2 separate regions of the Homo sapiens genome follow, and region 2 is reported to be linked to region 1. Evidence: microRNA targets listed by miRTarBase, many of them from high-throughput screens and not tested one by one. Region 1 holds a microRNA gene; the other region holds the end of a gene's coding sequence.
What was found. Region 1 holds the annotated microRNA hsa-miR-3675-5p (UAUGGGGCUUCUGUAGAGAUUUC, at 1,883-1,905, shown strand). A microRNA usually pairs through its seed, bases 2 to 8, with sites in the 3' UTR of a target mRNA and lowers its output. Matches are read on the target gene's strand: a 7mer-m8 pairs with bases 2 to 8, a 7mer-A1 pairs with bases 2 to 7 and ends in A, and an 8mer does both.

Region 2: the mRNA of DNMBP is a reported target of hsa-miR-3675-5p. Seed matches in the 3' UTR shown: 7mer-m8 at 2,748-2,754.

The regions. Positions count from the first base shown.
Region 1 is chr1:16,857,486-16,860,892 of GRCh38, reverse strand. MIR3675 (microRNA 3675) reads left to right here and starts at 1,872; the gene lies at 1,872-1,944. It also overlaps the pseudogene PDE4DIPP9 and the pseudogene TRV-CAC11-2.
Region 2 is chr10:99,874,017-99,877,423 of GRCh38, forward strand. It overlaps DNMBP (dynamin binding protein), which reads right to left. Exons shown (of 17, transcript NM_015221.4): 17 at 1,561-3,320. The coding sequence ends at 3,135. Among named protein-coding and RNA genes, the nearest start is that of DNMBP-AS1, 51 kb to the right of the region's middle.

The DNA.
Region 1 (3,407 bases):
CAACAAACCTTAACATATGATCTATATCCACCAGAGCTATATTTATTCCCAAATCTCCTTCTAAAATACAAACCTGTACTTTCTACTCTTAACTTCTAAATTTACAAAGGCCTCATATGCATCTCAGAGTCACAGATGCTAAAACTTAACCGGTTTTCTGAGGATTATTTGGGGAAGGGGTATGCATGCAAATGTATACACATAATTCATGTGATTTAGGAATATTGACTCTATGACTTCCAGATGCAGATTTAGAACCTTTTTAAAAAATATTTTGTTTTTGTTGTCTTGCAAATCAGCCAGATCTGCAACTTACCAGAGTAAAGCGAAGCCAAGCGGGACCCTTAGGAAATGCACTAAGATGTCATCCACTTTCAGTGTCAGCCTGTGAAAATACAGGCGATAGAAGAGAATGAAGAGAACCTGAAGGAATTTCTGGAACCAAAGCTAATATTAAGCAGGCCTCTTGCTGGCAGACCAGTGGAAACTGTAGCCTGGTCAACGATCTGTCTAGATTGAGGAGGTCTAAAGTGTAGCCACAGGTTCAACTACTTTTCTGTTTGTTTCCCAACCTCGATTAAACTCACTAAATTTAGGGACAAAAAAACAAAACAAAACACGATGTTCCCACGCAGTCTCGAACCAGAGACCTTTCATATGTGAAGCGAACATAATAACCACTACACCACAGAAACTGCATATACACCAAAAAAGGCAAAATATCATCATGAAAATCTTAGGTCAGCCATTTCTATTATCGTTTCCAAAGTAAGAAATTCAACTGCATTTCGAAATTCGACTGAAAAAAGCCCAATAAGCACCAGCCATCAAGAAGACTATGGCTCCCAATAGGCCCAGGCTTAGCGTTCCGCGCCCACCCCCAACACGAAAACCATGGGGACCCACACCCGGGCTTCGGGGACACATACCCGGGCTTCGGGCTCCCGCATCCTCCCCTGGGTATGCAGTTCCAGAACTAAGCGCCGTGTGCGGGATCCTCCCGGCTGACACTCTTCGGCTCCCAGAAGCTGCAGGAGCCGGCGGGCTTTGAGCGTCCGAGCCCTGGGCGCCCCGTGCCTCTCAGGAGGGTGGACGCCGCCCTTCCAGGGATGCGGACCCCGCCTCGGGGCCTTTTCCCCGGCGCCGGCCGTCGGGGCTCTTGGCTCTTCTCGTCCTCCCAGGAACCGTAGGACTCTCCTTGCCCTCCCTCCCGTAGGCCGAGGGGCGCGAGCTGCGCCTGTTTCCTCACGGACCCTTTGGCCTCAGCGCCTCGACGTCTTGCAATTGTTAGCTCACGGCTCTTCCTCCTATAACAAGGCCCTTCCATGTCATGTCCCCTACTCCCTCTTAGCACCAGAGAGATGCCGCCCCTGCCCCACAGGTCACATTCCATGAGTGGTGAAGTTTCTAGAGTTGTAACCATGGCATCTCCAGCCCTGTGTGTTCCTCTCCATGCTCCCCATTGAGCAGTCTTGATCCTGTATTAGCCCCAGGAAATGAAATAGAAACAGGACCCTACGTTAAAAAGTTGCAGTGGAGATGTGGTGGCCACCAGGGGCTGGAACTGTGGGGTGACTGAGAGTATCCAAAGCCCTGTGGCCAACCTACTGGTGCTGAGTGTGCTGGTGAGCCTCTCTGTCAGCTGGCTTCCCCGGGCCAGTTGCTCCCGGAAGCTCTGTCCCAGGTAGTAGTCAATGTCATTGCTCCTTAAGAGATCCTCAAAAGATTTTACTGTATCTTTTGCATGCTGGGTGAGAAGATAACAAACACCTCTCCCTTCTCGTATTTTTTGCCGTAGGTAAGACAGTTCCCGGGGCTGATCCTGAATCAGGGAATCATATTTCCTAATGCAGGACAGAAGAGGAAAGGGTGGATGATAAGTTATGGGGCTTCTGTAGAGATTTCTATGAGAACATCTCTAAGGAACTCCCCCAAACTGAATTCTGGCACGTAAGCCATAGGAGGTATTTAAGAGTAAATTCTACCCTGATAAATTATTGCACTAAAAATTTAGTATGGGCCGGGCGTGGTGACTGACGCCTGTAATCCCAGCACTTTGGGAGGCTGAGGCAGGCAGATCACAAGGTCAGAAGTTCGAGACCAGCCTGGCCAATATGGTGAAACCCCCTCCTCTACTAAAAACACACAAAAAAACTAGCTGGGCATGGTGGCACATGCCTGTAATCCCAGCTACTTGGGAGGCTGAGGGAGGAGAATTGCTTGAACCTGGGAGGGAGAGGTTGCAGTGAGCCGAGATGGCACCACTGCACTCCAGCCTGGGTGACAGAGTGAGACTCTGTATCAAAACAAAACAAAACAAAAAATTTACCATGCCACTGTTCTTCAACTGTTCTATATATGTTAATTATATGTCCCTAGATAAATCGTAAGGTCTGTGAGAATGAAGATAGTTCTGCGTTTCACATCCCTTACAGCACCAGCATCACAGAGATTCACAGCAGATACTCAATGAATAATTAGACTCATCTCATCCTAAGTCTAGATAGGACCTTTCATGTCTTCTGTTTTAACCACCACCTGATGTCTGAATTTCTTCTGTGTTGTGATACTGTGGCTGACTGTATTTTGCAATCATGGCCATCACATAAACTCTCATGCCATCAACTGATGAGACCCAAAACAAGAGACCCTAAGTGAGAGCCACCCAGCTGAGCCCAGTCAAACCACAGAACCATGAAGCATAATAAAGTACTGTTTGAAGTCACTAAGTTTTAGAGTGGTTCTTACTTAGCAGTAGATAACCAGGACGCATACCAAGATGAATGTCTGTGTTTTCAACACAAAGTGTCAATAACACTGATAACTATGGCAAATAGCATTGAGAGCTTAATGTATGCTGGGCACCATTCTAAGCACTTGTACTAATTTTTTTTTTTTTTTGAGACAGAGTCTTGCTCTGTCACCCAGGCTGGGGTGCAGTGGTACCATCTCGGCTCACTGCATCCTCCACTTCCCAGGTTCAAGCGATTCTCCTGCCTCAGCCTCCTGAGTAGCTGGGATTACAGGGGTGCACCACCATGCCCACCTAATTTTTATATTTTTAGTAGAGACAGGGTTTCACCATGTTGGGTAGCCTGGTCTCGAACTCCTGACCTCGGGTGTTCTGCCCACCTCAGCCTCCCAAAATGTTGGGATTACAGGCATGAGCCACCACACCTGGCCAGCACTTGTATTAATTCATTTAAACCTAATATCCACCCTTTGAGATGGGTTCTGTTATCATCCTCATTTAATAGGTAATGACAAAGGCTCAGAAAGGTTAAGAAGGTTGCATGGGTAGTAAGCATCAGAGCTAGGCAGTCTGATTCCAGTATTACCACTATACTATGCTATACTATACTATACTATACTATACTATACTATACTATACTATACCATATGTACTA
Region 2 (3,407 bases), not on the chromosome of region 1:
GTCCACAGTGGTCTCAGGCATTCTCGTGAAGCTTCTATGCTACAGGCAGGCCTGGGGGCAAGTGTGCAGCTACCAGCCTGGAGTCTGGGGCTGTGAGGACCTGCTGGGCACTGGGTTTTACTGGGGTAGTGCTGAGGTCCAAGGTTGAATCTGGGACTCGCTTCCCTCTCTTCCCCCCATGCAGAGGGTGTTCCGATGTGTGCTGCGCTGCCTGCGGCTGAGGGAGGGGTTGGCACAGGTCCTGTGAACATGTCCTCCCTGCCCTCTCCAATGCATCTTTTCTTAATATTTGCATGCAACACCCAGGTGCTGTCATCTCTCACATGGTTTTCTTAGCGCTTAGGGTATTTTCATGCACAGATAGTTTAAGATGTTTCCATGGGGGGACAAGCACTGAAAGTCCTCCTCCAGTATCTCGCAGCTGTCCTGTTGCAGCATGGTGCATGTATTAACTCACGGAATCTTCCTATCAACTCTACAAGGTGGATGCTATTACTATCTCTACCTCAACCAGGGAACTGAGACAGAGGTGGGTACGTTGCCAAGGTCACAAAGCTGCCAAGTGTCAGAAGCCAGACAGTCTGGCTCCAGAACAAGGTGTACAGACTCAGCCTGAGCCTGCAGGCCCGAGTTTCAATTCACAACCCCTCAAAAACTTGATATATGACTTGGGTGAGTACGAATGTCTCTGGACCCCATTTTCCTAGTCTATCACATGAGAGTAGCATAGGTGACTTATCAGCTGCTTTCCTGCAGCCTACCCAATTCAGTGATTTCTATTCCTTAACAACACTGGGTGATCGCTTTACTGTCACCCACCATACTGTCCTCAATCCCACCTCTGCCACTAGCCCTGCCACTTCCTTCCCTGCCCCCAACTGCCTGAGCTGCTGCTCCGTGACCTTGTTAGATAACCTTGTGTATCAGTGTCCACATCTGCAATATCAGGGAAATACTTATCCCCTAGAGATCCCAGCTCTTCTGTTTCGTTAGAATTTCACAGGACAAGATGAAAATAGAGGCAGTCACCTGCAGCATGGACATATTTTGAGTATACAGAGATTTTTTTTTTTTTTTTTTTTGAGACAGGGTCTTGCTATCGCCCGGGCTAGGGTACAGTGGTGTGATCTTGGCTCACTGCAACCTCTGCCACCCAGGTTCAAGCAATTCTCAGCCACTTGATTAGCCAGGACTATTGGCATGCAGCACCATGCCCGGCTAATTTTTGTATTTTCAGTAGGGATGGGGTTTCACCATGTTGGCCAGGCTGGTCTCAAACTCTTGGCCTCAAGTGATCCGCCCACCTTGGCCTCCCAAAGTGCTGGTGGGATTACAGGTGTGAGCCACCACACTCGGCCTGAGTATATAGAGATTGTTGGAATCTTTGACAGAATGACTTTGGGCCTGCATTTCTTCAGTTAGCCTCTCCCATTCTCCCAGATCTGGACATCACTCATTGTCAAGAAGGCCTCCCCAGAAGCCCAGGAAAAACGTTCAGCTTAAACAAACAAACAAAAAAACCCGTTCAGCTTAAACATGGAAATCAAGAAAACATCCAAGGCCATTAGAAATGCTTTTATTTATAAAAGAACTACTTAAATATAAACATCTCTACATAGAAACACTCTTCACAAAAGGACTCTTGCATTACTGCCTTCTGACCACGACCAGCAGACACTGTGGATGTTAGGACTCCACGGTGTCTCCCGACTCCCAGGATTTTAAGGCTAAATGTGCACTTGGAGGAACAGGGGCTGTAAGGCTATTTCTTCCCTTTCTTTTAAAAGACAAATTTCATGGTTTCCCATTCCAAGATAGGCTTCATAGCTGGGGAAGATCTTAAGATTCTTGGTCTAAGGGGTAAGCAAATATCTTCCTGAGACTGGGAGGTATGATCAGGCACTTGGGAATCTGGCTTTGAATGTCATCTCTGAAGCATGGAAGTTAGTGGTGAAAAAAATCTTATTTCCAAGTCTAGGATAAGCTACTTCTGGAATGGCTTATCCCAATTCAAGTAAGTCACAGGTGTTATGTTGTCTGCATCTATGGATGTAACTAAACAGTCATTAGGGTGCTTGGATGAAGAAGAAAGACATCCAGTCTTCCATTAGGCTCAACTGGTTTCAGCTCAAAGCAGAACTAATACTTTTAATGGAATGGCTGGAGCTCTCATACTGTTACTCTAGGAAAATCTATCAATTATTGAGTCCAGGGCAGGGGGGCCACCAGACATCACAGACTGTGTAAAGACCATCAGAAAGGTGTCATTGAGGTTGCGGTATGGTGGCTTACACCTGTAATCTCAGCAGGGAGGCGGGAGGGTTGCTTGAGCCCAGGCGTTTAAGACCAGCCTGGGCAACATAGCAAGACCCCATCTCAAAAAAAAAAGCGGGGGGGCAGTGATTGTACCTAACAAGGGAAGAGAATCTTTCAGATGAAGGGTCAACAGAAAATAAAGACCCTAAACACTTCTAAAAGTAGAACGCAGTTGAATTTTGCATAACTAATCTGGGAATGGAGTAAAAGAAACAAGGTTACAGAATGTAGTGCTTTAGGGACTTTAGAAATTAGGGGCAGTATGTATGAGAATGTGTGCTGGACACTGGAGGTGTCCCAGGAGCTTTGAAGCACTAGGTTTGGTTCAATCCCGACAAACTCCCAGCCATGTGCAAGCACTGCCTCACGGGGTGCCCAGAGCCATGAATTCTTTTCATCTGAGTTGGCATCCGGTCAGCTGAGCATGGAACATGGGGCCACCCCAAACGCCGTACAGCACAACCATTACCAACACTGTCTATTGCTAGAGCACAGCTTCCTGCATACATAGGACACTGGGCTTCTGACTGCAAGTTTCTCCTTTCCAAAAGCCAGCTCTAAGACTTGTCTCTCTTCTCATAGTCACTAAGTCATTTGCAAAGCCCCAGGGTCCATTTCAAATTCTAGAGATTCTAGTGAGCATCAAGGTTTACAACCCAATCGAGGAGAACAAGATCTGTGGTGTGCTCCACCATGCCATGGTTAAGCAACGCAGACAGGGCCTGTGTCTCAGGAGCAGGCGCCCTCTCGGTGGGCCGCCAGAACCCTCGGCGGACTGAAAGCAAAGGCAGCAAGGCTGGGTGGCAGGCAACGTGGGCTCAGGTGTACTCGGTTTTGCGGATATAATTGGAGGGAACGTAGCCCTTCTTCCCGTTAACCTCAGCTAACCACCACTCTGTATTTCCTGTAACATCTTTAAACTCGAGGATCTTGAGTTTCTGATTGGCTGACACGCTCAGCTCATTTGGGTTTCGTGCCTTGAAGGTGTAGACAGCAAAATAGACCTGTGTGAGGGAGAGAGAGAAAATGGGAAATTGCTGGGAGCAATGCCATCCAACAGCTTCGTGCGGTGTTGGGGAGGGTTCCACATC